Homo sapiens: one gene and its partners. The protein of the gene in region 7 interacts with the protein of the main gene of each other region in a biochemical or structural test. Each region holds a gene or a part of one and is shown on either strand. Other genes may lie near its edges. The genes, in order: PAX2, GEMIN5, BMF, JKAMP, SPIB, NFE2 and MAPK8.

Evidence for each region.
Region 1: of the proteins of MAPK8 (region 7) and PAX2, one has a biochemical effect on the other in vitro, tested with the Homo sapiens proteins (one study listed by BioGRID).
Region 2: the proteins of MAPK8 (region 7) and GEMIN5 form a complex in vitro, tested with the Homo sapiens proteins (one study listed by BioGRID).
Region 3: of the proteins of MAPK8 (region 7) and BMF, one has a biochemical effect on the other in vitro, tested with the Homo sapiens proteins (one study listed by BioGRID).
Region 4: the proteins of MAPK8 (region 7) and JKAMP form a complex in vitro, tested with the Homo sapiens proteins (one study listed by BioGRID).
Region 5: of the proteins of MAPK8 (region 7) and SPIB, one has a biochemical effect on the other in vitro, tested with the Homo sapiens proteins (one study listed by BioGRID).
Region 6: of the proteins of MAPK8 (region 7) and NFE2, one has a biochemical effect on the other in vitro, tested with the Homo sapiens proteins (one study listed by BioGRID).

The regions. Positions count from the first base shown.
Region 1 is NC_000010.11:100,744,454-100,748,381, reverse strand, and holds the start of PAX2 (paired box protein Pax-2), read right to left. Parts: upstream 2,801-3,928; 5' UTR 2,190-2,800; coding exon of another isoform or gene 2,122-2,189; coding exon 2,079-2,121; intron 1,368-2,078; coding exon of another isoform or gene 1,195-1,367; exon of another isoform or gene 945-1,194; intron 1-944. UniProt on the Homo sapiens protein: Transcription factor that may have a role in kidney cell differentiation. Has a critical role in the development of the urogenital tract, the eyes, and the CNS.
Region 2 is NC_000005.10:154,890,062-154,893,211, forward strand, and holds part of GEMIN5 (gem-associated protein 5), read right to left. Parts: intron 2,489-3,150; coding exon 2,326-2,488; intron 1,682-2,325; coding exon 1,180-1,681; intron 1-1,179. UniProt on the Homo sapiens protein: The SMN complex catalyzes the assembly of small nuclear ribonucleoproteins (snRNPs), the building blocks of the spliceosome, and thereby plays an important role in the splicing of cellular pre-mRNAs.
Region 3 is NC_000015.10:40,095,380-40,098,879, forward strand, and holds part of BMF (bcl-2-modifying factor), read right to left. Parts: intron 1-3,500. UniProt on the Homo sapiens protein: May play a role in apoptosis. Isoform 1 seems to be the main initiator.
Region 4 is NC_000014.9:59,494,517-59,498,016, reverse strand, and holds part of JKAMP (JNK1/MAPK8-associated membrane protein), read right to left. Parts: intron 3,000-3,500; coding exon 2,793-2,999; intron 1-2,792. UniProt on the Homo sapiens protein: Regulates the duration of MAPK8 activity in response to various stress stimuli.
Region 5 is NC_000019.10:50,428,938-50,431,814, forward strand, and holds the end of SPIB (transcription factor Spi-B), read left to right. Parts: 3' UTR 1-2,377; downstream 2,378-2,877. UniProt on the Homo sapiens protein: Sequence specific transcriptional activator which binds to the PU-box, a purine-rich DNA sequence (5'-GAGGAA-3') that can act as a lymphoid-specific enhancer.
Region 6 is NC_000012.12:54,298,216-54,302,392, forward strand, and holds the start of NFE2 (transcription factor NF-E2 45 kDa subunit), read right to left. Parts: upstream 2,801-4,177; 5' UTR 2,586-2,800; intron 2,062-2,585; exon of another isoform or gene 1,932-2,061; intron 1-1,931. UniProt on the Homo sapiens protein: Component of the NF-E2 complex essential for regulating erythroid and megakaryocytic maturation and differentiation. Binds to the hypersensitive site 2 (HS2) of the beta-globin control region (LCR).
Region 7 is NC_000010.11:48,404,177-48,407,676, reverse strand, and holds part of MAPK8 (mitogen-activated protein kinase 8), read right to left. Parts: intron 2,826-3,500; coding exon 2,696-2,825; intron 1-2,695. UniProt on the Homo sapiens protein: Serine/threonine-protein kinase involved in various processes such as cell proliferation, differentiation, migration, transformation and programmed cell death.

The DNA of each region.
Region 1 (3,928 bases), about 52 Mb from region 7:
TCGCGTTGCTGGGAGAGACTGAAGCCCCTTCTTTTACCCCCTTGCCCACCCCGTTAATCTCCCTATCTCTAGCCCCACTTCTCACCCTCCCCTCCCTCCAAACCCCGACCATCAATAATTTAGGCCCCGGGAGAACTCGCGTTACCGGTATGAAAAGGCGGCAGCTGCGGGCAGATTAAAGATGAATAATTCAGCCTCCCCGGGCTCAGGGCCCGGCCCCTCAGCCCCAGTCTAAGGGGTGGGGATGGGAAGGGGACACGGCGGGAGTCCAGGGCTGGGGGACTGCAGCGAGTCGGCGCTGAGTCGGGCCTGGAATGCGCCACGGCCGCCAGCACCGACTCGGGCTGCGGTGTCTCACCCACCAGTCCACCGGCCCGCGGGCCCGCGCTGCGGCTCTCTCCCTCCGACCTCTGCTTGGCCGTGCAGAAACCTTTGGGTTTCAAAGTGGCTGCCCGCGGGCAGCCAGGACTCGGCGGACCCCCGGCGGAATCCGCAAAAAAGGAGAACGAGAGCTGTGGCAGCGGGCCGCGAGGCAGGCTGGCTGGGCGAAAACGGCGTGTGGACCCGGTTCCACTCCTCCCGAAAAGGACCGAGGCTTTCCGGCCCGCTCGCCGAGACCCGCGGAGGCCTGATGCCCTCGGCGCGGCTTTCCTGCGCTTGGAAATTACTTAGAAAAATATATTTTATCCCAGAAGTATTTTTAAACGCCCCCCCCAACCCCCGCAACGCTAAATATATGATTAGCGAAAAACACAGCTCTCCCTCCTCGGCTCTCTTGTCCTAAACACAGGTCCAAGCCGGGTCTAAAGTTTCCTTGTGAAAAGTTACAAATTATCCTTAATTATTAATCTGCAGATAGGGAGGAGTTTTCTATTTAGAATTTTAGCTTTTAAAAAAAAAAGCCTGCAAAAAAAATCTCAGAATAGTTTTTCAAGCTAAAGACATGGCATAAATTCAAATTTTATTAAAATAATTCCCTCTTTTCTCTATTTTTTTCTCCCTTCTCCCTTTTCTTCTGTAACATCATGTCAACTTTCTTTCTTTAATTTCCTTTCCCGTGTTTGGATTTCTCTTTTCCTTTCTCCTCAGCTTTGGCATTTGCTTTCCTTTTGTTCTTTCCCCCTCATTTTTTGCTCTTTGCTGACCCCCTGGCCAGGTTGCTGGCTGCGTGATCCTCAATGGGGAGTCGGCAGTCTAGGCAAGGAGCCTCCAGAGCTGAGAGCAGAGCTGCACTCTGCCGGGGGCCCACCTGGAAGGCTGCGCTGCTGGCTCTCTCCCTGACTTCGATTTCTTCTCGGAGCCCCTCTTTGTTTTTAGAGCATCCCCCAGGCAGAGGCAGGGAAAGATGACCATCGTGTCTTGACAACCTGGGATTCCCAATGTGAAGGGAAGGGAAGGCAAGGGAAGGGGGGTGGGAAAGAAAGGAAGAGGAAGAAAATATTTCAAACCAACCCACAAGAAGCCTATGCTGGGCTGGAAGGGCCTGGAGATGCTGAGAGATGAGGGTCAGAAGGGGGCACCCCACCCCCACACTCTTCTGCCCAATTGTCCTGACACTGAGGCTGAATACTCTTGGAGTCTCCTGGACCCCACGACTCTTAAGTTTGAGAAAGATAAAGATGTGGGGAGACAGGAGAGGGAGGCAAACAGAGGAAGAGAGAAAGAGAGAAAAGACAGAGAAAACAACAAAACAACACCCTGAAAACTGCCTGCTAATTTGCCCCCCAGCCCAGGGCAAGAGGCTGACTAGGGAGAGGGTGGCTGGAACCAGGGCTCCGAGGCCGTGGATCCCATGACCTAAGAAGGAGCGGATAGAAAGAGCAAAGGCAGGTGATAGGGATCAGGGAAGGTAGGAAGGCAGGCAGACAGAGAGGTAAGAATGGGTGACAGAAGGCAGGAGAGAAACTGGAGGCATTAGAAACACCGGGCGAGGGAGAGAAAGAACGAAAAGAGGGACCAGAAGCCAGGGAGGCCTCCAAGATGGGACCTGAGCGCGAGGGGCCGGGGCCACGCTGGGACTGGACAGGGTTGGGACGGAGAGCCCCGAGCCGGGACAGGAGCCGGGCGCCGGTACTCACGGTGCATCGCGGAGAAGGGGTCTGCTTTGCAGTGCATATCCATGGGGAGGCAGAGGAGCGGGAGCAGCGCGGCCGCCGCCGCCGTGTCGCCTCTCAAACTCAACTTCAGGACTTGAGGAGAAAAGGGAGGGACGGTGGGGGAGGGAGGATGAGTGAACGCCCGGCTGCTGCGGGGCGCGCGGGGGCGGGGGGCGCAGCACTGCGCTCCCCGCTGGGGCTCCTCCGGGTTGGCCGGAGCTTGCAACTGCAGTAGCCGCAACTTGCCACTGTCGGGGCTCGGGGCTGGGCGGTCAGCAGAATGGCCCCGGGGCGGTGGGCCGGGCCGGGGTGCACTGGGGGCGCATGGCTCGCGCTGCAGCTGCAGCCAGGGCTGAAGCTGGGCGGGGGAGGCGACTCGCTCAGCTCCCCTGGAACCTGGTCATCCGAGAGGCGGTGGTCGGAGAGCGCGCGGGGCGGGGGCGGTCAGAGGGCGCCGGGAGGGGAGCCGGGCCTCTCCAAGTGCTGGCGAGTTGGCGAAGTTGGCAGAGAAGTAGCAATCCCGGGGATGTCCGAGGTGGCGCCTGCGGGAGGGGAGCGCGCGGGCCAGGCCCCCGCCCCCGGAAAAGGCAGGCGCACGCCGCCGCGGCCGAAGGGCCGGGAGGGAGGGAGGGAGCCGAGCGGCGCTGGCAGCTCTGGGCTGGCCCCAGGTGGGTTGCGGCTGCGAGAAGACTCGGCCGGAGACTGGAGCCTCGGCTCCCGGTGTGTGTCTCTCTAAAAGCTGCAAAGCCCCCTCCAGACCTCCTCCCCCTCCCCGCGCCGGGAGATGGATGACTTGTCAGACAAAGGCAATAGATTCCACCACTCTGTGATTCGCCAGCGCTGGAGCCCCGAGCTTCGGCGAGGAGGGCCCCGAGCCTGTCACTCCGGTGCCGGCTAGGGGAGGGCAGGGGAGGGAGAAATGGGAGGGAGGGAGGGAGGGAGCAGCCGGCGAAGGAAGAGGGAGGGAGGGGAGCGGACCGGGGGAGGGGGAATGGGAGCCCGGGATTAAAACTACACTGAGAAACGAAACTCGCCGATAAGATAAACGCTAGATAAGGATAAAGAGCGGTCAGTCTAATGAATATTCAGGTAACGACAGAGGGCCTCGGAGCGCGCTGCGCTGTGAAGCCGGGCTCTCAGTTCTAACTCGCCCAGCCCTGCCATCCACTGGCCAGTGCCCGCCTGGGCCGCGCGGCCCCGGGCCCAGTGCGCATCCCTAGCCCCAACCCCACCACCCTCGGCTCTGAGTTCCCTTCCGTTCCTTCCCGGCTCTTCCTTCCTCTCTTTCTGGTCCTTCCCTTTGGCCTTTCCCTCCGGAGGTACCTTCCCACCCACGCACCCCCCACTTCTCATTCCACGGAAAAGTGTCCAGCAGTTTGTCTTGTCCCCTCCCGTTCCACGCGACTGTGCGCAGGGCCTCCCCAGTCCCCTTGCCCACCGGGTCTGGGCAGTCCAGAACGCTTGGTTCAGAATCGAGCTGAAGACCTCCGGCGAGTACCCACCTGCCTCGGTGGGACCCAGCGGATGGCGGGAGAGCCGGGGGACTTGGTTTCTGAACCCTCGGGTGACTGGGAAGGGGGTACAGGGGAGGGAAACAGTGCGGAGCTGCAGGTCGCTGGCGGCAGAGGATGTGGGAGACGAGGCTGGCTCTCCCCGGCTGGGGAGAAGAGGAGGCTGCGGACGCGGCTGAGCGCCGCCCGCTGCTAGCTCGGTGGATCCGGGGCGAGCGCAGGAGGCGCAACCACGGGGACGTCCCCACTCCTGCCGGAGCCTCCGCAGCTCTCTCTGGCACTAGCTCCCTTGCTCGCTGGGGTCCGCTCGCACGCACCAGG
Region 2 (3,150 bases), on a different chromosome or scaffold from region 7:
CTGCATCATTTTACATTCCCACCAATAGGCACAAGGGTTCCAATGTCTCTGCATCCTCCTCAACACTTGTTCTGTTTCTCTGATAGTAGCCTAATGGCTATGAAGTGCTGCTTCACTGTAGTTTTGATTTGCATTTCCCCAATGATGAGATGTTGAGCATCATTTCCTGTGCTTACTGGCTTTTTAGAGAAATGTCTATTCAAGTCCTTTGCCCATCCTTGAATTGGATTATCTTTTGTTATGCCTGGGTAGCTTTTACCTTTTATTTTTAATATTTTTTAAAAATTTAAACTTTTGCCTATGACACAGCCCTCAGGAGGCCCTGAGAGCATATGCCCCTGCCTGGGTTACTTTTATCTCATTTTATAAATAAAATTCCTTTGTCACCTGGCTTCTTAAAATTTAATTTTTTTTTTTTTTTTTTGTAGAGACAGGGTCTGTCAACCAGGCTGGTATGAGTGGCATGATCGTATCTCACTACAGCCTCGAACTCCTGGGCTTAAGTGATCCTCCCACCTCAGCCTCCTGAGTAGCTGGGACTACAAGTGCATGCCACCACTACTGGCTAATTTAAAAAAATTAATTTTTCTAGAGACAGGGTCTCAATATGTAGCCCAGGCTGAACTTGAGCTCCTGGCCTCAAGTGATCCTCCTGCCTCAGCCTCCTAAGTAGCTACAGGGTACATGCCACCACACCTGGTTACTTTATTTGTATTTTTTGAGATGAAGTCTCCCTCTGTTGCCCAGGCTGGAGTGCACTGGTGCGATTTTGACTCACTGCAACCTCTGCTGCCCAGGTTCAAACGATTCTCTGGCCTCAGCCCCCCAAGTAGCTGGAATTACAGGCATGTGCCACCATACCCAGCTAATTTTTAGTAGAGACGGGGTTTCACCATGTTGGCCAGGCTGGTCTCAAACTCCTTACTTCAAGTGATCTGCCCACCTCGGCCTCCCAAAGTGCTGGGATTACAAGCGTGATCCACTGTGCCCGGGCTTTTTTTTTTTTTTTTTTTTTGTAGAGACAGGGTCTCGCTTTTTTGCCCGGGCTGGTGGTGAACTCCTGGGCCAAGTGATCCTCCTGCTTCAGCCTCCCAAAGTGCTGGGATTATAGGCATGAACCACTGTTCCTAGCCAGCAGGGTCATTTTTCATTCCGTCTTGTACTTGCCTCAGTACTTACCACTGGCTCTGAGAACTGCAGAGGGGCTGCTCTGCTTCTACTTCCGGTTCATTCTTATCAGGACCATTTGCTGTGGATTTACAGAGTTGACTCTTTTGGTGTTGTCGGATCATTTCTGCCAAGGTCTCTTGGACTTCAGCAACAGTTCTCTGTGAGTTTTGGAGACTGGCATGCTTTTCTGAAAAGAGCTCCTTAAAAGTACTCAGCATTCGCTCACCTTCTTCTGTGAGTCTCAAGTCTAGTTCTGAAGGCCTGTTTGGCTCTGGCTGAGAAGTTTCAGGGTCCGTTTCTTCAGTGCTGGCAGTGTCTAACTGCTGGCTTGGCTCAACAGAGAGTGTTCTGTGACCAGCCCTTACCCAGACACTGGAATTTGGGCAAGGTCTGGAGAGAGACCACCAGAATTCATACAGACGCCCATAAAGAAAAAAGGCCTCCAAACTTTTGAAAGCTGGTGTGGCAGGGGATTGATGGTCCCCCAACTTGTCTCTTAGGTGGTCACAGCCTAGGAAAAGAGGAAAAAGATACTGGGTCATGCATTTCTCTAGTTGCCAGAAATGTGGCTTCCTGCCCTTATGTTCTATTTCTTATCAACCAAGAAGCAGACCCCAGGAAAAAGGACAACAGTGTGATCCACCGGGCCACATGCCTTTCCACCAAGAGCCAACTGGAGGCTAAACATTTCCTGGCTTGCGACAGTGTTCTCATTACTACATCCTAGGAGTCATTCAAAGCATGATAGAGTATTCCATTTGTACTACTGAAGGCTCTGGGGCCACGACAACAGATCACACTGTCTCTCTGAAAAATCACAATGATTTAGTTCAGTGACTGACTATGCAGCCCAAGGAATGTCTATCTTTTTTGCTGTTCTTTTCTGTTCTTACTAACATGTAACTACATTCCTATTTCTCTCTCCCTTAAACTTTGTGGAAAGTGGACAGGAGGCTGTAAGAGGGTAGGGCCAGGTAAAGGAAACAGTATAGTTGTTCTTAAAAGCTTCGGTAAGAGAATCCAAACTTTCTACTAAAATGACACAGCTGGCCAATCTCCATCTTTTAAGAATCTAGGTACTCCCAGTGCCACACCACTAATGGTGGTGATGTTGTCCATTAAAGGGTGTGCCTCAGGCAGCAGGAAGTCACTTACCGTCAGGGAGAAAGGCTGAGTACACTTCCTGCATGATGGTGAAGCTCCCTGAGTCATAGCTCCGGACCACCGCCCGAAGGAGCGCCTGCACAGCCTCGTCCCAGGAGGCCATCTGTTGGCTCAGCACTGCCAGGGTCAAGTCATGGCAAATGTGAAGCAGGAGCTGGAGAGAGAAGCCAGAGTCTGAGTTAAACATCCTCCCACGGTAGGCGCAGAGGATGCCACCAAACTGTTCCTGTGAACCGCATTTGGAAACAAGTACACACAATTCACACTTTGAAAGTTCCTCTTGTCTCCGCCACCCATTTTTGCTTCCCACATCGGAAACTCTCATGTCTAGTTGCACAGCAGCACACACACGTCCCGGTGTTAAAGTCTGTTCACACTGAGAAAACACCTTTACATTTGCATTTAATTAAAACAAAAAGTGGGCCAGGCGCGGTGGCTCATGCCTGTAATCCCAGCACTTTGGGAGGCCAAGGTGGGCAGATCACAAGGTCAGGAGTTCAAGACCAGCCTGGCCAACATGGTGAAACCCCGCCTCTACTAAAAACACAAAAATTAGCCAGGCATGATGGCGCGTGCCTGTAGTCCCAGCTACTCGGGAGGCTGAGACAGAAGAATTGCTTGAACCCGGAAGGTGGAGGTTGTGGTGAGCTGAGATTGCGCCACTGCACTCCAGTCTGAGCATGAGAGTGAGACTCCCTCTCAAAACAAACAAACAAACAACAAAAACAAAAAGTGAGTTTCTGGAACTAAAAGCTGTAATTAAAAACAAAATAAAGGCTGGGTGCAGTTGCTCACACCTATAACCCCATCACTTTG
Region 3 (3,500 bases), on a different chromosome or scaffold from region 7:
CTGAACAGGATGAAGAACACAAAGATACCAAAACACCAGAGAACGTGGGATCTTCCACAAGAGGGTGTGGAGGAGAAGGGGAAGAGAGGGGAACCAGGAATGAGTGTACTTGGCCTCTGACCCTCAGGCACCCGGCACAGCACCCAGCGCACAATCTGAGATCAACAAGGGCAGATCCCCAGAACCAGGCCTGCCCTCCTAGACTCAGCTAGGGAACCCCTCACAGAATGGGAGTTCCCAGAATACACAGTCAGGGTGACCCAAGGGTCGGGGCTGGGATACAGAGGAGGGGAAGCTCACCCTAGAGCCCTCGGACTCACATGGTTTAGAAGGCAGGGCCAAGGAATGGAGGGAATGAATAGAGGTGAATGCCCCCAGGGAAGGTGCCCTAACATGGTAGATCACGGTGTTCTCTTCAATGAAGAGAGCACAAGCAGGCATCAGAGCCCCATGCGGCTTCTTTGGCCCAGCCTCATTTTCTTGCCACGGACAGGGGATGAAGGCAGTCAGCTGACAAATGTTTCAATCCCTACTGTGTGCAACACCCTATGCCTGAATGCACAGCTGCTCATCCTGTGTAATGGGGAACATGGAAGGCATACAGTAGGCACTCAACAAGGGCATGCTGGACCGACTACAGAGGAGTCAGCCCTGAAAGATAACCCACTTGTCTGAGGCCAGGAACAACTGATGTCTGGCCAGGTCTAAAGATGTACTTTATGTGATAGTATCAGCCTCACACCTGGGGAGAGGCCCAACTAGTAAAAGGCCTCCTTTTTTTTTTTTTTTTTTTTTTTTCTCTAAAGAGCTGGCTGTGGTGTCTGACAAGGTTGGATTACATAAATCAAACTCTGTTTCATCCCACACAGCCTCTGCCCTAAGCACAAAGCGTGTTCCCTACGCTCCCTGGATAAGAATCTCCCTCTGCCTCTCCCCTTTTCAGATCCAATTCATACCCTCTGGGGGCTCTGTGTGTCACCAGTGTTCCAGATGCTCCAGCTAGAGCTAATTCACCCCAAAGTATCAGAGGAAGAAGCAAAGCGAAGCCGTGTGCAGCTCTAAAAGAACCTAACTCACAAAATGCAAATTTACCAAACAGAGAGCAACTTATAATATCTCAGATACAGAACAGAGCACTTTCCTTTCTTCTCATGTGATCCTCACGATAGGAAGAGCAGGTATTAATCAACCCATTTTAGAGCGACGGAAACAATGGCTCAGAAAAGTCATCCCAAGTTAGTTGGGAGGGGTGTAATTTGAGGCCCTGACTTCTGACTCCAAAGCTATGTTCCTTCACTAAAATTTTACAGTGTGTTTATTGACATTATGAAAATAGCATTACCTTTTTCAAAGCAAATCACCACTGATCTGCTCCCCTAGTATGCTTAAAGACATTGTTTCCAGATCATTAACTATTTAGTAAGGACGCTGTGGACCAGAAAAAAATAACCCTTTCAGAGGCAGAGCTAACTGAAGATCAAACAGAAATAAAGCTAAAACTGGTCTGAAATTATAACTTCAGACTGTGATCTGAAACCACACTCAATCTCTTCAAAATGCAGAATTGTCTATACTCTAGGGGAAGGTGCACAGTCCACGATGTGAAGTTTTCCTCCCTCTTCCCTTTTCCCTGTCATTCTCTAAACCTACTCAGGCCAAGGCTGAAAGAAAGAGCCTTGCAATTAAGAACAGGAACATTGAGAGCAGGAAAATTCCTGCTTGAAGGAAGCTAGGAAGATGTTTTCTGTTGAAATAAGGACATTTTAATGAAGCACCCAACTGAGCTATCAAGCACCCAACTGAGCTACCAAGCACCCAACTGAGCTACCAAGCACCCAACTGAGCTACCAAGCACCTAACTGAGCTACCAAACACCTGAGCTACCAAGCACCCAACTGAGCTACCAAGCACCTAACTGAGCTACCAAGCACCCAACTGAGCTACTAAGCACCCAACTGAGCTAAGAGTTATGTGGATACAAAGATGATTAAAATATTATAAACTTGGTTCTCAATTGTTTTACAATATAATGGGGAGAAGAGCAAGAGCACCTAGCTGAGTATCACATGAGGCAGAGCGGGTTGGGGCAGCAAATGTGTGCTTCCTTGTACCCTTGTTTTCCGGAATGTGATTGCTGGGCAGCAGGTATGGGGCGATTGGACCATGGTTCCAGAATCCATCAAATCTGTATGACGCCTAGCTCAGCAAATTACGGTGTGACTTGGACATGTTACCTCACTTCTCTGAGCCTCAGTTTCCTATAACACAGTGGCAATGGAGTCTAAAAGTCCAAGGTTGCTGTGGTGATTACGTAAGAAAAATATACATGAAGCACTGGGCCTGGGGGCTGCAAGGAGCAGGCTCCTCCTTCCCTGGGGAGCACAAGGAAAACCTGGGACTCACTGGCTTTGCAGAGCACGTCTCTCAATATGCTCTGCAACAGGGCCGGCCTGGGGAGCACCATCTTCCCGGCAGACTCACGAAATCCCTGGGAGATCCCTGACTTTCTGCTTTGAGACTGCCCACAGCAGCCACAGGCCATGGGGCTCAGGATTCTAGGCTGCCAGGGTAAGCCAAGGATTCTGAAACCCAGAGGGCAACCCCTTGGACCCAGTGGGCCCACTGCCTCAGACTGCTTCTGACCCAGAGGCCCGAGGAACGAGCAACGTGGCAAAACGGAAAAGGAAAAAAAAGACTCCTTGCCAAGAGCTTCCTCAGCCCAGCCAGCAGTGTTAACAGGACATTGAAGCCACCATGGCCACGCCCATTGCTTCTCTAAGGAAAAAAGAGCAGTCCGAAGCCAGCCAGCTCTCAGTGGAAGATGGCAAGGCTTCCTCTAACGCAACTGGAAGACACTGGCTCCAGCCACTGGGGGTTGAGGGGTACGGTTCGGGGACAGAGCTGTGCTGCACCATCCATGTCCCCAGACCCTTGTTTTGCACCTCCACAGCCTGGAGGGAGGAACTACTGAGACCCTTACTCAGTTTCCTTCAAGCTGAGAACAGCTCCATCAAACTACTGGGCAACTTCTTCAGAGCTCAGAAGGGCACAATGGTGTGTGCCCTGGTTAAAGAAGGGAGAGGGAGGGGGTTCGGGGGACAAGCCTGTTGTGTGTATTATGCTATGCAAAATAACCCCAGGTTCTGACACTCGACTTGGGGTCTTTTCAGCTGACTGTTCATGTCCTGTCCAGGACCAGGTCAAGGCAAACCAGGCAAGGAGGAAGGATGGAACCCTCCCCTTCACACACGGACTGATTGTGTGCTCTGGTCATGGAACATGACCTCTTGGCTGCCAGACATGGATCAAAAGGCAAACCAGTCATTTTTCTTTAACCTTCTTTCTTTGTGTCTCCCTTAGTCCCCTCCTCCCATCACCCACTTTCCAAAAAAAAAAGCCAATTTCCATCCCATGGCAGGCCTTGGTGGGGAGGGAATGAACTCTCCGGAACTACAAGGCCCTTCTCCTGGAAGAGAGAGCAGTCAGGTGCAGAGTGTGTG
Region 4 (3,500 bases), on a different chromosome or scaffold from region 7:
TGTCACCAGATTTCTAGCACTTTATTTTGAATAATGGGACTTTTATCCACATAGTTCTACCTTAATTTTCCTGAGTATTTTCAAATCATTTTTACTATCTTGCTACTCAAACCCTCTCCCTATACAGGGGAGTGTCCTAGGAAGTCAGCAGTCATTTCAGATCACGGACCACATGCTTCCTCCCCACACAGCATCATGATACCATAATCCTGTGTTCCTATGATGCTTTTAGGTTCAGTCCTGTACAGTAATGCATTAGTACATGTTTGATCTCTTGGGTGATAATTTTTTTGTCTTGTTATACCACCCCCAAACAACATCAAAAGAAAACAAAATCTATCCATTCCTGCAACTTGTAGTTCCTTAAGAGCTCTAAAAAAGATGATTTTAATCAAGAGGAAACCATTATGTGTTACCTCTTCTAATGAATTAGTTTCCTAGTCTTGTTTGCTACCTCTTATCAACAGCAAAAGAAAAAAAATCTGTCCATTTCCACAACTTGTAATTCCTTAAGAGCTCCAAAAAGATTCACTTTAATCAGGAGGAAACCATCCTGTGTTTCTCCAAATGAACTAGGAAACTAGTTTCTGGAAGTGATTACGTTTCCCACTCCTGCCTTCCACCAGAAGACCTCATCCCATTCCACTCTTCCCCTCTTTCAATCCATGCTGCCTACATGTGGGGATAGTTTAAATTTGACAAACTAAAGCTAATTCCTGCTATAAGAGTAATAACTGCTCATTTTCCATAACTCATTCTTAAAGTTTTAGTAATGTAAAAGTTATTTTTTTGCAGTAAGTTATAATGATAGAAGCTTACATGTTTTTTCATGCCTCATCTGTTTCCCCTTAAAACTATAATTATCAGTAAAGTCCTGTGGTATTTTTCAATTTGTAAGAAACTAGGCTATATATACATTGGGAAAAACAGCCTTCATTTGTCAATGCACTAGTGTTCCAAAGGTTTCTGGTAACTGTGTGCTATTGCTTTTTGTTGACTTGCAAAAAAAAAAAAAAAAAATTACTATGACTTGTGGTAGCCCTACAACCTTCGGAAGTGCTTAGCCCAGTCTGACCATACATTTATATTTAGAATGCTTAGGTAAATAAATAATATGCCTAAACCCAATGCTATAAGATACTATATAATATCTCATAATTTTAAAAATCACTGTTTTGTATAATAATAAAACAAGGCAGGCAAGCTGTTCTACAATGACTGTTGGTAAGGGTGCTGAGGAAGAAAAACAAACAATCTTGATTCAGGGATAGTGAATAGACAAAAAATGTCCTAATCAATGAAGCTGTGTGATGATTCTGATTGACAGAGAGTGCTGCCACAAGATTCTTAGGCTACACTCAAATCAGCAGAAAAAGTGCTACAATAAATTAGAAGTGACTATTACAGGTGCAGATGAGGGTTGGTAGTACCTGTTTGCCATTTCTCTTCTAATCTTATATTTTCTGACCCTCCTACTGTAATAGGCTTTATAAATATTACAATAAATAACATAAATGAGACTATCGCTAAATAAGTCTGATTTTGTTTTAAATAAGATTACATTATATCTTATTTAAATATAATATTCAATTCATTTATTAAGTTTTCCAAATAGGACCACGTTAAGTTATGCAAGGCCTTAGGAGAGTTATATGACAAGAGGGTAATTAATGCTTAGAGTTAAGCTCTACGAATCAATGAATCAACAAAAAGGACATTATCAGTGTTTTATATAGTATTTTATATATAAATTATAGCTATATATATATATCTATAAAATAATTTGCCATACCTAAGAACTGGCAGGGAGAGGCCGGGCACAGTGGCTCACGCCTGTAATCCCATCACTTTGGGAGGCCAAGGTGGGTAGATCACTTAAGGCCAGGAGTTCAAGACCAGCCTGGCCAACATGGCAAAACCCCGTCTCTCTACTAAAAATACAAAAATTAGCCAGGCATAGTGGCACATGCCTGTAATCCCAGCTACTTGGGAGGCTGAGGCACAAGAATCACTTGAACCCAGAAGGCAGAGGTTGCAGTGAGCTGAGATCTCGTGCCACTGCACTCCAGCCTGGGTGACAGAACGAGACTCTGTCTCAAAAACAAACAAAAAACTGGCAGGTAGAAAAGAAGATTTTCATTTTTTCTAAGATATCTGGTTGTTTTGTACCTATTTGCATTTCTATGTTTTTGATGTTTTATTATTAAGAACTTGCTCAAAAAGGACTAATTTCCCTGAGCATATTATGTACTGAAAGCCTGCTACAATTATGAGAATATAAATACCAGACTTCTATTTTCCCTTTCCCCCAAAAAATATCAAAATGAATTTGATTCATTTTCTAGTTCTAGAATTTACAAAAATTCATAAAAATTCTGAAACTGGAATAGTCTGGCATAATTGCATACAGAATTTTATGAATTTAATATTTTGAAAACAAAACATTCTAACAGAAATTACACTTATTTGGGGAGAAAAAAAGAAAAAACACTAATCCAAACACTGTAATAATGCCATTTACTATAAAGTGCCTCCTATATGTAAGTTATATGGTATCTAGAATGTGTGGATTAATTTAATCCTCACGACACCTTATAAGGATCATTATTCCCATTTTACCAAAGAGAAAACTGAAGTTACAAGAGGCTGTTTACATGTTCAAGGTAATAAAGCCGCTGGCAGACCCAGAACTCAAACCCACACCTGTTTTTGTCTCCAAACGCCATAAAATCTATAATAATCCTCAGAGATTTAAAAAAAAACAATGATCTTAAGTCGAAATAAACACTTACAGTGGGTAGACGGCTTCATGAGTACAGTGTACTGTGGTAACGTAATCTGGACTTGGGTTGTAAAGCATCGTGTACCAGTCAGAAAGCATCAATACTCGACATGAACGAATATAAAGAACACCAACTGGATCACTCACAAGTAAGGTGATAATAGCTGCCATGCTGCATTCAAATAATGCAGTGATGTGTTGGAAAAGTGCGCTGGAACTAGAGAAGGAAAAGAGGCATGATTACTAGAAAAATTGCAATATTTAAATGGCTTTAATAAAACATGTACATGTGTCAAGATACAGATTTCTAAATCTATAAGAAAAGTCAAAAACTACTCGAGTATAACCTTTTTTTCTCAAAAGGGATAAATAACACTGTAGCAGTATTATCTAAATGTGTAACAGAAAAGCAGAAATTATATCTACCCTGCATCTTTAGTATCTTGCCAAATTGTTGCTAAAAATTTCTTAGTTATCTGTGTATCATTTTAATCTTAATATGCACATAAAAGATGGTATGTAACGTGTTTGTTAGAAAGTATAGTAATTATAATATTATAAGCTCATCTCCTACCCAATAACTAGAACACTGTCAACAATTTGTAACTACATCTTTGTTCCTCCCCATCCATACCTCTGTCTCTCCCTTAGAGGCAACCATGTACCAAACTGCTTTTACCACTTTTTTCCAGAAAGTTTTTATCCCAACTGTATTTCT
Region 5 (2,877 bases), on a different chromosome or scaffold from region 7:
GCTGCCCCTTTTTATGTGTCTGGAGTTCCCCAATCACATCTAGGGCTCCTCCAAGATCCTTTTGTCATGTCTGAAATCACTCTTGAGAGGTCTGGGGTGGAGGATGGGGAGTCAGTGAAATGTGTCATGTCTGGGCCCTGTCAGGGACACCCTTGTTATATCTGGGATCCTCCAATCACATCTGAGACCTCCTAGGCTCTCCATCTGATATGCCCTTTCAGGGACCCCACAAAGACTGAGTTCTCATGGGGATCCTACCCTTCCTAGTGCCACTCCCTATGGCCATGCTGAAGACCACTCTGGCCACGCGACTGATTTTGGGTGATCATGGCAGCTCCCCACCCATGTCATTTCTAACCAGAAGTCTCAAGGTCGTCACCCCCCTGCCCCCCAACCGAGGCCCCGGTCGCTGGTGGTGGTCTCTTTAGTGCACTGTAGCACTTGGTGGTGGAGGTGTGAGGGATCCACATTAACAGCAGGCCATCAGCTGGGCAATGGCTCACACCTGTAATCCCAGCACTTTGGGAGGCGAGGCAGGGGGAATGGCTTGAACCCAGGCATTCAAGACCAGCCTGGGCAACATAATGAGACCTCGTCTCTACAAAACATAACAAAAACAATTAGCCGAGCGTGGGGGTGAACACCTGTGGTCCCAGCTGCTCAGGAGGCTGAGGTGGGAGGATCTCTTGAGCCCAGGAAGTAGGAGGCTGTAGTGAGCTGTAATCGTGCCACTGCACTCCAGCCTGGGCGACAGAGTGAGACACCGTCTTAAAAACAAAAACAAGGCCGGGCACGGTGGCTCATGCCTGTTGTCCCAGCACTTTGGGAGGCCGAGGCAGGCGGATCACGAGGTCGAGAGATCGAGACCATCCTGGCCAACATGGTGAAACCCTGTCTCTACTAAAAATACAGAAATTAGCTGGGCGTGGTGGCACGTGCCTGTAGTCCCAGCTACTCGGGAGGCTGAGGCAAGAGAATCGCTTGAACGTGGGAGGCAGAGGTTGCAGTGAGCCTAGATTGTGCCACTGCACTCCAGCCTGGGGGACAGAGCGAGACTCCGTCTGAAAATAAAAACAACAAAAACAGCAGACCATTCAAAATAGGGAGACTTTGCATAATCCAGATTTCTGCCTTCACTTAAAACTTTGGACGGTCTGGAGAGAGTCGGCCAGTTTTCGGTGGGGGGTGGGGAGCTGGAACAGGACAGTAGCCTTTCCTAATGAGGCATTTGTTCTCCAATCTGCCCCAGTCGCTGCCATCCCTGGCTATCTCACCCTAGCAGCTTCTCAAGCCTGTTGGCTTTAGACCACTGTATAAACCCAGCTGGAACTGAAGCCTGGGTGGACTATGGAGCCCTGGTTGGGACCCCCAGGGAGTCAAAGGCTGCGGGCCAAGAGGCCAGAGGTCCTTGAGCCTGGGTGGGCAGGTGGATCTAGGGTGCATGACTTGCTGCTTCCCAACCTTAGTTTGTCCCTTCTGTGAAAAAGGGAGAGAAGGAGGAGGAAGATCTCAAAAAGACTTTCCAGCCCAGTGCGGTGGCTCACGCCTGTAATCCCAGCACTTTGGGAGGCCGATGCAGGTGGATCACCTGAGGTAGGAGTTCAAGACCAGCCTGACCAACATAGTGAAGCCCCTTCTCTACTAAAAATACAAAATTAGCTGGGCGTGGTGGCATGTGCCTGTACTCCCAGCTACTTGGGAGGCTGAGGCAGGAGAATCGCTTGAACCTGGGAGGCGGAGGTTGTAGTGAGCTGAGATCACACCACTGCACACCAGCCTGGGCGACAAGAGCGAAACTCCGTCTCAAAAAAAAAAAACTGTTGCAGCCCCGTTGAGCCTTTGACACCGCCTGAAATCCACCCCACTCCCAGGAGGAGGAGGAGGAAGGAATGCCAATGACCTAGAGACACGAGAAGTCCATGTGGAGGCACACAGCAGCTGATGGCAGAGCCCAGGCTGGGACCTGCCCTTAAGAGAATGAGTGGGAAGGGGGAGGGAGGAAGGGCAGGTAAAACGTCCTCCCCAGGGCCCCCTGCAACGGGGAAGGTACTTTTTACAAAAGCTATCATTGTCACCCTAAATGTGGAATAAAATAAGATGCATCGACGTAGACAAACCTCCTGGGACCTTTTGTCAGGGACTGCAATCCTGCCCCTCCACTGAGGCCGCTGGCTCTCAGAGACACCGTGACATCACGGGTGATGATGAGAGGAGTTCAAAGAGAGAATTATATGCTGGCGCGGTGGCTCTGTAATCCCAACACTTTGGGGGGCCAAGGCAGGAGGATCGCTTGAGTACAGGAGTTTGAAACCAGCCTGGGCAAGATAGTGAGATCCCCTTCCCACCCGTCTACAAAAAAAATAAAAAATTAGCGGGGTGTGGTGGCGTATGCCTGTAATTCCAGCTACTCCGAACTACTGAGGTGGGAGGGTCACTTGAGCACAGGAAGTTGAGGCTGCAGTGAGCCGTGATCGTGCCCCTGCACTCCAGACACGGCGAGACCCTGTCTCAAAAACAAACAAACAAATCACAAAGACACCATACAGCAAAACCTATCTGAACCTTAATGCCGAGAAATAAGAGGCTTGACGCGCAGGCACAGAGGGTTCCGTTTATGTCTTCCTCTATTCCTGCCAACTGAAGTTCTCCACCTCCTCCCCGCTTCCCCTTCCGTCTGGGTGTCTGTCCCCTTCCCTCTGAATTGAGCCCTCGGGCTGGCAGCGAGGGACGCGAGGCTTCAGGTGGCCGCGGCACTGCAGGCCTGGGCCCCTCCCCAACTTAGCGGGGCTCGCGGGAGCGCAGTGGCAGTCTGCCTGGCAACCCGTGACATCACATGGAACTGACGCCGGATTGGCTGGACGCTCCCCGGAGGCGGAG
Region 6 (4,177 bases), on a different chromosome or scaffold from region 7:
TACAAGACCTTGCTACGCACGGTGGCTCACGCCTGTAATCCCAGCACTTTGGGAGGCCAAGATGGGAGGATTACCTGAGGTCGGGAGTTCAAGACCAGCCTGACCAACATGGAGAAACCTTGTCTCTACTATAAATACAAAATTAGCCGGGCATGGTGGCGCATGCCTGTAATCCCAGCTACTTGGGGGGATGAGGTGGGAGAATCGCTTGAACCCAGGAGGCGGAGGTTGTGGTGAGCCAAGATCATGCCATTGCACTCCAGCCTGGGCAACAAGAGTGAAACTCCACATCAAAAAAAAAAAAAAAAAAAAAAAGATACATGACCGTGGGCAAATTGCTTCTCATTCAGTCCCTTCCATTAAATGGAGACAGGACTAGGAACCTAATTGCTATTAAAGGCCATAGGTTGCATCTAGCTCAGGGAGTCACAAACTTCATTGTGTGCCACATTCACCTGGGCTACATGTAAAGACACAGATTCCTAAAAGCCACTTCAAATCTACTGAATTGAATCCATAAACCCAGGAATCAGCATTTTAAAAGTGCCTCAGTGGCCAGGTGTGGTGGCTCACACCTGTAATCCCAGCACTTTGGGAGGCTGAGGTGGGTGGATCACCTGAGGTCAGGAATTTGAGACCAGCCTGGCCAACATGGCAAAACCCCATCTCTACTAAAAATACAAAAATTAGCCAGGTCTGGTGGCGCACACCTGTAATCCCAGCTACTCAGGCGGTTGAGGCATGAGAATTGCTTGAACCTGGGCGGTAGAGGTTACGGTGAGCTGAGATCATGCCACTACACTCCAGCCTGGGCAACAGAGTAAGACTCTGTCTCAAAAAAAAAAAAAAAGAAGGGGAGCAAGGGGAGGCAGGAGTTTGGGGGAGAGAGAGTTGAGGAGAACCTCTGGATCCATTCCAACCAGCTCTTGGGTGCAGTAGCAAGTTTGTACCAGGTGGCAGGTGGAGCAGGATGCTTTTCCCTAGACGCTCAAGGATGGATGGTGTTCTATACACCAGGCATAGGGTCCCTCTGGGTTTCCAGAGCCTACCTTTCAGAGGACAGCAGAGCTGGCAGGCAGTGGGATAGATCAGGGAGATAGATAGAATTGGATCAAATAGAACACCATAGAGGGTATAGAAACTGGGGAGATACTGGGAAAGTGAAGTGGGCTTCCCTGTGTTCCCTTTCTTTTACAATAAGAAGCTCCCACTTTACAGTTTAGCTTTTGCATTTTGGGGTCACACCACCATCTTACTCCCACTGGGTTGTCTGTTCCTTCTCTTACTCCCCAACATTATGGATTAGGTAGAAATGGGGTTGTCACCAGGGACTAAAGTCCATCCTCCTTACTCTTAGCCTGGTGGTCCTACCCAGAAAGATTTTTATCATAATCCCTAAGTACTCACAGAATGATACGGAGCTTCATGATTAGGAATACAGAGTGAGGACTATTCGGAGAGGGATGATGGAGAGAGGAATACATTTGGCCTTAGCTGCTGCCCCAGGGCTCTTAACTTCCTTAACGAGGGGGAACGATGAGAGGGGGCTTGCCTCAGGATCCCTTTTCTGAGGCTTATTTGACCACCTCACCTCTCCAGGTGTCAATAGGTGCAGTGAAAGGATGAGGAGGGATTAGTAAAACTTGGGGTATTGGTTAACCGGTAAGCAACCTATTTAGAAAGATTAGGGAGAACTCCCGAAGAGAGAGAGACACACAGAGATGAGACAGAATGAAGGGGAAAAAAAGGAGGGAGAGAGATTTAAGCATAGTGAGCTCAGTGCCCTAGGGACATGCATGACTCAAACAAATGTGTGAGAACAAAGAAGAGGGGGACGAGTTTCTGCTATTGTGTCACTTCATCCCTGGACCCCAAACTCCAGTCCTTTGGTACCGATGTCTAGGGGATCCCAGCCCCAGCAGTTCTGATACCTCCTCTCTTCTCTTCCACTGCTTCCCAAGCCCCTATTTCCCAAGCAGCCAAGAGTTCCAGTTAGAAGCAACTATGCTGGGGTTGGGATGTCTTCCTTCTCCCTCCAGGTCCAGCTGATCTCTACTGCCCCTGGGCACAGAGAAGAGAAAGGGCAAAGGAGCCAACAACCCAGAGGCAATCTCCCATCCAACCCCCGCACCTTGCAACACTTCTCAGAGGTTCAGATATCCAGTGTTTCCAATTCCTCAGCTTTCCCTAAACCTTCTCAGCTGCCTAGACAGGGCAGAGTAATGGAATGGAGTTGGGGAAAGGGTAGTCTATTGGTTCCCTCAGGGTAGCCCACCAGTTGAAGGATTCCTCCTGGCTACTCCCCAGCCCCTCAGCGGTGCCTTGCCTCTGGAGACCCCTCTCTGATCCCCATTCACAGCCTCCACCCCAAGGATCCCAGAGCACCCAAGAAACCACTTAGGTCTTCTCCTAGAGGAGTTCCCAAATATGTCAGATTCCTAAACCAGGGGCAATCTAGAAAGTCTGAGGTCTCCTAGGATACCGAAAGTTGGTTATTTTCCCCCCTCACCTCCTTCACCCCCCAGCCTGCCCCTCGGATCTCACTGGAATCCGCCCCCCCCACACACACCCTGCCTTTCAGGCACCTGTGGTGGAGTCACAGCAGGGTGAGGAGAGAGATGAGGCTCCCGGTGTTGTCTCTGGGGAGGCTGAGCCTGAGCTGACACTGCTGGACGAGGATCCCGGCTACCTTTGAGAATCTGCGAGGACCGCGCCCCGCCCCCGGGCCATTGCTGAGCGCTGAGTGTGGAAGCTCAGGCTGAGCTGAGCACAGGAGCCCCAAGCAGGCGCACCAGCGTCTGAAGCCCTCGGCCTGAGTTCTCAGTCCTTCCTCCAACCCTCCCCTTTCCCCGTGGCTCTCCTCTCCTCCTGCCCCTTTCGGCCAAGAGAGGAAACTTGAGCCCGATGTGGTTTCTGCCCACACCCCGCCCCCACCTTGCTCCTGGCCAGCGGGGGCACACATGGCTCCAAGCCTCTCCCAGCCCTCCTTTTCAGCCCAGGAGTCCAGCCAGGTCTGCGTTTCTCCCATGCATTTGACGAATTCCAACCTGATGGTCCACTCGAATGTGACCTTTAAACTTTATACAGGTTGTCGTCGCCTTGTGTCCCCACGGCTCTCCTAGGGACAGGGAAACTGAGTCATATCAAGGTGGAAGGCAGCTGAAGGTAAGGACCAGGTGTCTAGCTTCCCAGCTGTCTAGGCAGTTGGACGTTTAGGGTATAGCCTTCATTTACAGAAAACCTGGGCTCTGGGAACAAGGGCAGGGGAACTATTTGGAGGAGGAGGGGCAACTGACTGCTTTGATGTGTCCTTTCACCTGTAGCCTTCTCCCCTCCCCCCTCAGCCTCAGAAGTCCCAGGACAAAGGATTCTTTCTTGGCCAGGTTTTTGTCAGTGTGTGAAGGGAGTTAGGTGGGGGGCCACCCAGCAGGGAGATTATTCACCTCCCGTAAAGGGGACCCCAGGTGTCCTTTGTCCTCCTTTCTCCCAGGCAAAGCACCCCAGCCACATGGCACCCAACTCTGTTAGGCCAGTAAGTACCCTTATTCATCTTTTTTTTTTTTTTTTTCCAGAGAGGGGCTCACTCTGTCTCCCAGGCTGGAGTGCAGTGGTGTGAACATGTTTCACTACAGTCTCAAACTCCCAGGCTTAAGCAATCCTCCCACCTCAGCCTCCCAAGTAGCTGGTTCTATGGGTCAGTGCAACCATGCCCAGCTAATTTTTTTTTTTTTTTTTTTTTTTGGTAGAAGTGGTGTCTCACTATATTGCCTTGGCTGGTATTGAATTCTTGGGCTCAAGCAATCCTCCCCTCTTGGCCTCCCAAAGTGCTGGGATTACAGGCATGAGCCACCTCACCCAGCCCACTTATTCATCTTTTTGCCTGCAAGCTACACCACCAAAGCCCCAGGTCAAACATCTTTCTCCACAGACTGTGAGAAAAGAGCCTTTCTTCCTCCTAATTTGTAATGGCTTTCAGCTCTATATGTCTAGCTTCAATCCTGACATCTGCAGCTTACATTTTTTCTTCTTACAATGTTCAAGTTAAATTAGAAACATCTGAAGACTGGGGAAGCAGATAGGTGCCACTCTGGAGTAGGACTGGCATTCAACCAGCATGCTCTGATGGGATTGTATTTGCTGTTAAAATAATGAAAATGTTCAGTCCTAGTTGATAAAA
Region 7 (3,500 bases):
AATATACTAAAAACCACTGAATGGTATACTTCAAATGGGTGAATTGCATGACACAGAAATTATATTTCAATAAAGCTGTTATAAAAGAGATTCAAACAGATAGTTGTCCCATTTTTCAAAAAGGGAAATAAAGGAAATTATATCAGTTATAGACTGGACAGCCAAGCAAAAGTCAATGATTAGTAGTGGTATATAACTACTTCAAAAGAAGTAACAATTACCAAGAGCAGGTAAAAGTTCATTGAGAAATACTATTTCCTTCCATGAATAAAAACAACAAAGAACAATAGCAATAAATCAGAAAAATGCAACCAGACACAGTATATGAAGATTTCAAAATGGCATTTTACAAAATGTTTCTAATAATAACATCCATGTGAATAAGATGATGAATTGGAAACAGCTGGATAACTGTGATAGTTAGACACGTAATTTCTGCAATATGCTCAAAAGTTGCTAATGAATTAATCCAGCTATTACAAAGATATCCTGAGCAAAACTGGGAAGTGAAGCCCACAAGTGAAAAGTCAGAACAAGGAAGAAAAAAGCAATCACAGCAATCACTAGTAGACCAGGAAGAGCAACCACATTTCACCTTTGAAATTTAATAGGGAGAAACATGAAGTACTATACTTAATTCTCCATAATCAAAAGAAAAAATATAAAGACTGGGTGAGATGGGAACTGTAAGGCAGGCCTGTAACAAAGAAAGACAACGGGAGTCAGATGGGGACGAAATTTCTAAACAGGGTTTTAATGTCTACAGTTAAGAGATGACATGCCTCAGCTCCTCTCAGAGGATTTGATCAGACGTGCAGTACTGTGTGCTAGGTGGCTTATGCAGTAGTGTGTGCTAGGTCACTTTCAAAGTGTGTTCAGAGATAAACGGCCAAGATTAAAAAAGAAACTCAAGACCATCTATGAAAAGAATGAGAAAAACCAGAGATGCTTAGACCAGTGAAGAGACAATCTGTACAGAGGATGAAATTGTTTAAAAGGCAAAACACTACAAAAACATCCATCCATGGGTGAGTGGAATAATTCAGTTACCATTTCCAGTTTTCCCATATTTAGCTTTATACTCACTCACTGAACAAATATATTCTGAGTACCTACTCTTGTCCACACTCTTCTAGGTGCTGAGAGTTCTGCCTGGATAAACCTCTGCCACCCCTGCTAGAGGCCTAATCATGTGAGACATGCTTAGTCATACTCCATGCAGTTGAAGGAACCACCTTTCTTTGCAGTCACCCAGGCTTGAGAGGTAGGATTAACTGAACTCCTCCCCAAGGAAAAACTAAGGCAACACCACCACTGCCATGGAACTGCGTTCACAGGCCACAAGGGGCACGAGCAGCTCTATCCATGGACAGGATGCCACCAGCAAAACTGTGATGAGCAACACATCAAGTTCCCGCTTGGAACAAGAATGGCTACCACAACTTCCTCCCTATTATTATCTAAGTTTAATCTTTGTCTCTGGACCTTTTTTACGTCATTCTTCCTCTCTGAAGGCTCCTTTCCTTCAACAATCCAATTTTTACCCCATCTTTAAGAGTCAGCCTAGGTCTACTCCTCCCCAAAGCCTTCCCAGTTAATTAAAGCTCACAGAAATCGTCCCTCTTTTTAGATTTCAATATATGGGCCACCATCATCATTTGACAAACGGCCACTGCTTTGTGATGTTTGATATTTAACTCTCTGTATGTCTGTTTTGTATTCAAAACACCATTGTAAGCTCCCCAAATAAAGGGCCTAATCCTGAACTTCCATGATTTTTTTTTCCCTTGATAATGAACCCAGTAACTCCAATACACAGAGGCCTGCACATATTTAGATCTCAAAATGTGGTAAATTGTATTATCTGTAGTCAGAAGGTACTGTGCTCATTATATTATATAAACTCTTTTGGACAAACACTACGAAATGTCTTTAGTCAGATGCCTTCGGTTTAGGACTGCCTAAAAGTGTCCCTTACACAATTCACTCCTAGTTTATTTCCTCAACTGAAGAAATCATTCCATTAGAACAATCACAAAAGTATGAATAAGCTTAATGTAAGTTTAAAAAAGTATAACTGTTTATTCTCAAAATGAGTGCAACTTATATATCTTTATAAAGACTTATCTTTGCAATCATTAGAAAATAGAATTAGAAACATGTTAATACCCTCTAGATAGTTTCAAACACTTTCTGCTAAACCCACTATCCTCATCATAAAGTGATCAGTGAATACTGCCATCACTTAAAGAGGTGGGAGTGGGGTAGGGAGAAGTGATATAAATTTTATATTCAATATGATTAAAGTCAGAGTGTCAAAGCATAATGGGAACAATTTCATCTCTGTGCTAATGCTACAGTTTTCTAAATGTCAGCCTGACGGAGAACAAAAAGCAGAAGATGAGATCAAGCTGAATAAAATTCTTCTCAAACGCTTATCTTTTTAAAACTCCTTTTGTAAATTAAATGACAGGAAATCATATAATCTAAATTTTAGAAGCCATTCTTCTGATACAATTTAATAAAGTTGAGGAAAATCACCCTGTAGATATATATATATATATATATATCCCTTTTAAACAATGTTTTAATACAGAACAATTTAAAGCCCCTAATATTTAGTCTTTGATATTCACATATTCATGAATAAATCTTGATTTCATCTATACTTAGGAAACCAAAAATGTTCACTTACATTTTTGTGATTAACACATTTCATAAGAACTAGCTCTCTGTAGGCCCGCTTGGCATGAGTCTGATTCTGAAATGGTCGGCTTAGCTTCTTGATTGCAACATTTCTTTCAAGAATGGCATCATAAGCTGCGCTGTAATAAGAAATTCAAAAACACACAAAAAAACTTCAAGCAAAAATCTGTAAACTGAATTCATGAAACAGTCATATACATTTCTCACTTTCTCCAAAGACAAGTAACTGGATCCCTTCCAAGTCTATGACGCTCAACATGTGTCTTCTATATCTATTACAACATATATTTTTTTGCAACTATTTCCTAAAATGCTAATGGATCCAAATAGACAGTGGACTATGCCAACAGAGACCCTGCATGTTCGTTGTGTTGCCTCAAAGATCCACCTAGTACATCGTGGGCACTCAATGTACAAATCCATAATTATTTAGCTCCACTAGATAGCCTAAAGCCTAAATAAATCCTTAACCTTGTACTTCCATCAAGAAAAGGTAGGATAAAGAATGCATACGAGGCTGGGTGCAGTGGCTCACGCCTGTAATCCCAGCACTTTGGGAGGTCAAGGTGGGTGGATCATGAGGTCAGGAGATCGAGACCATCCTGGCCAACACAGTGAAACTCCGCCTCTACTAAAATACAAAAAAATTAGCTGGGTGTGATGGTGCACACCTGTAGTCCCAGCTACTTGAGAGGCTAAGGCAAGGGAATCACTTGAACCTGGGAGGCGGAAGTTGCAGTGAGCCAAGATCGCACCACCGCACTCCAGCCTGGTAGACTCCCTCAAAAAAAAAA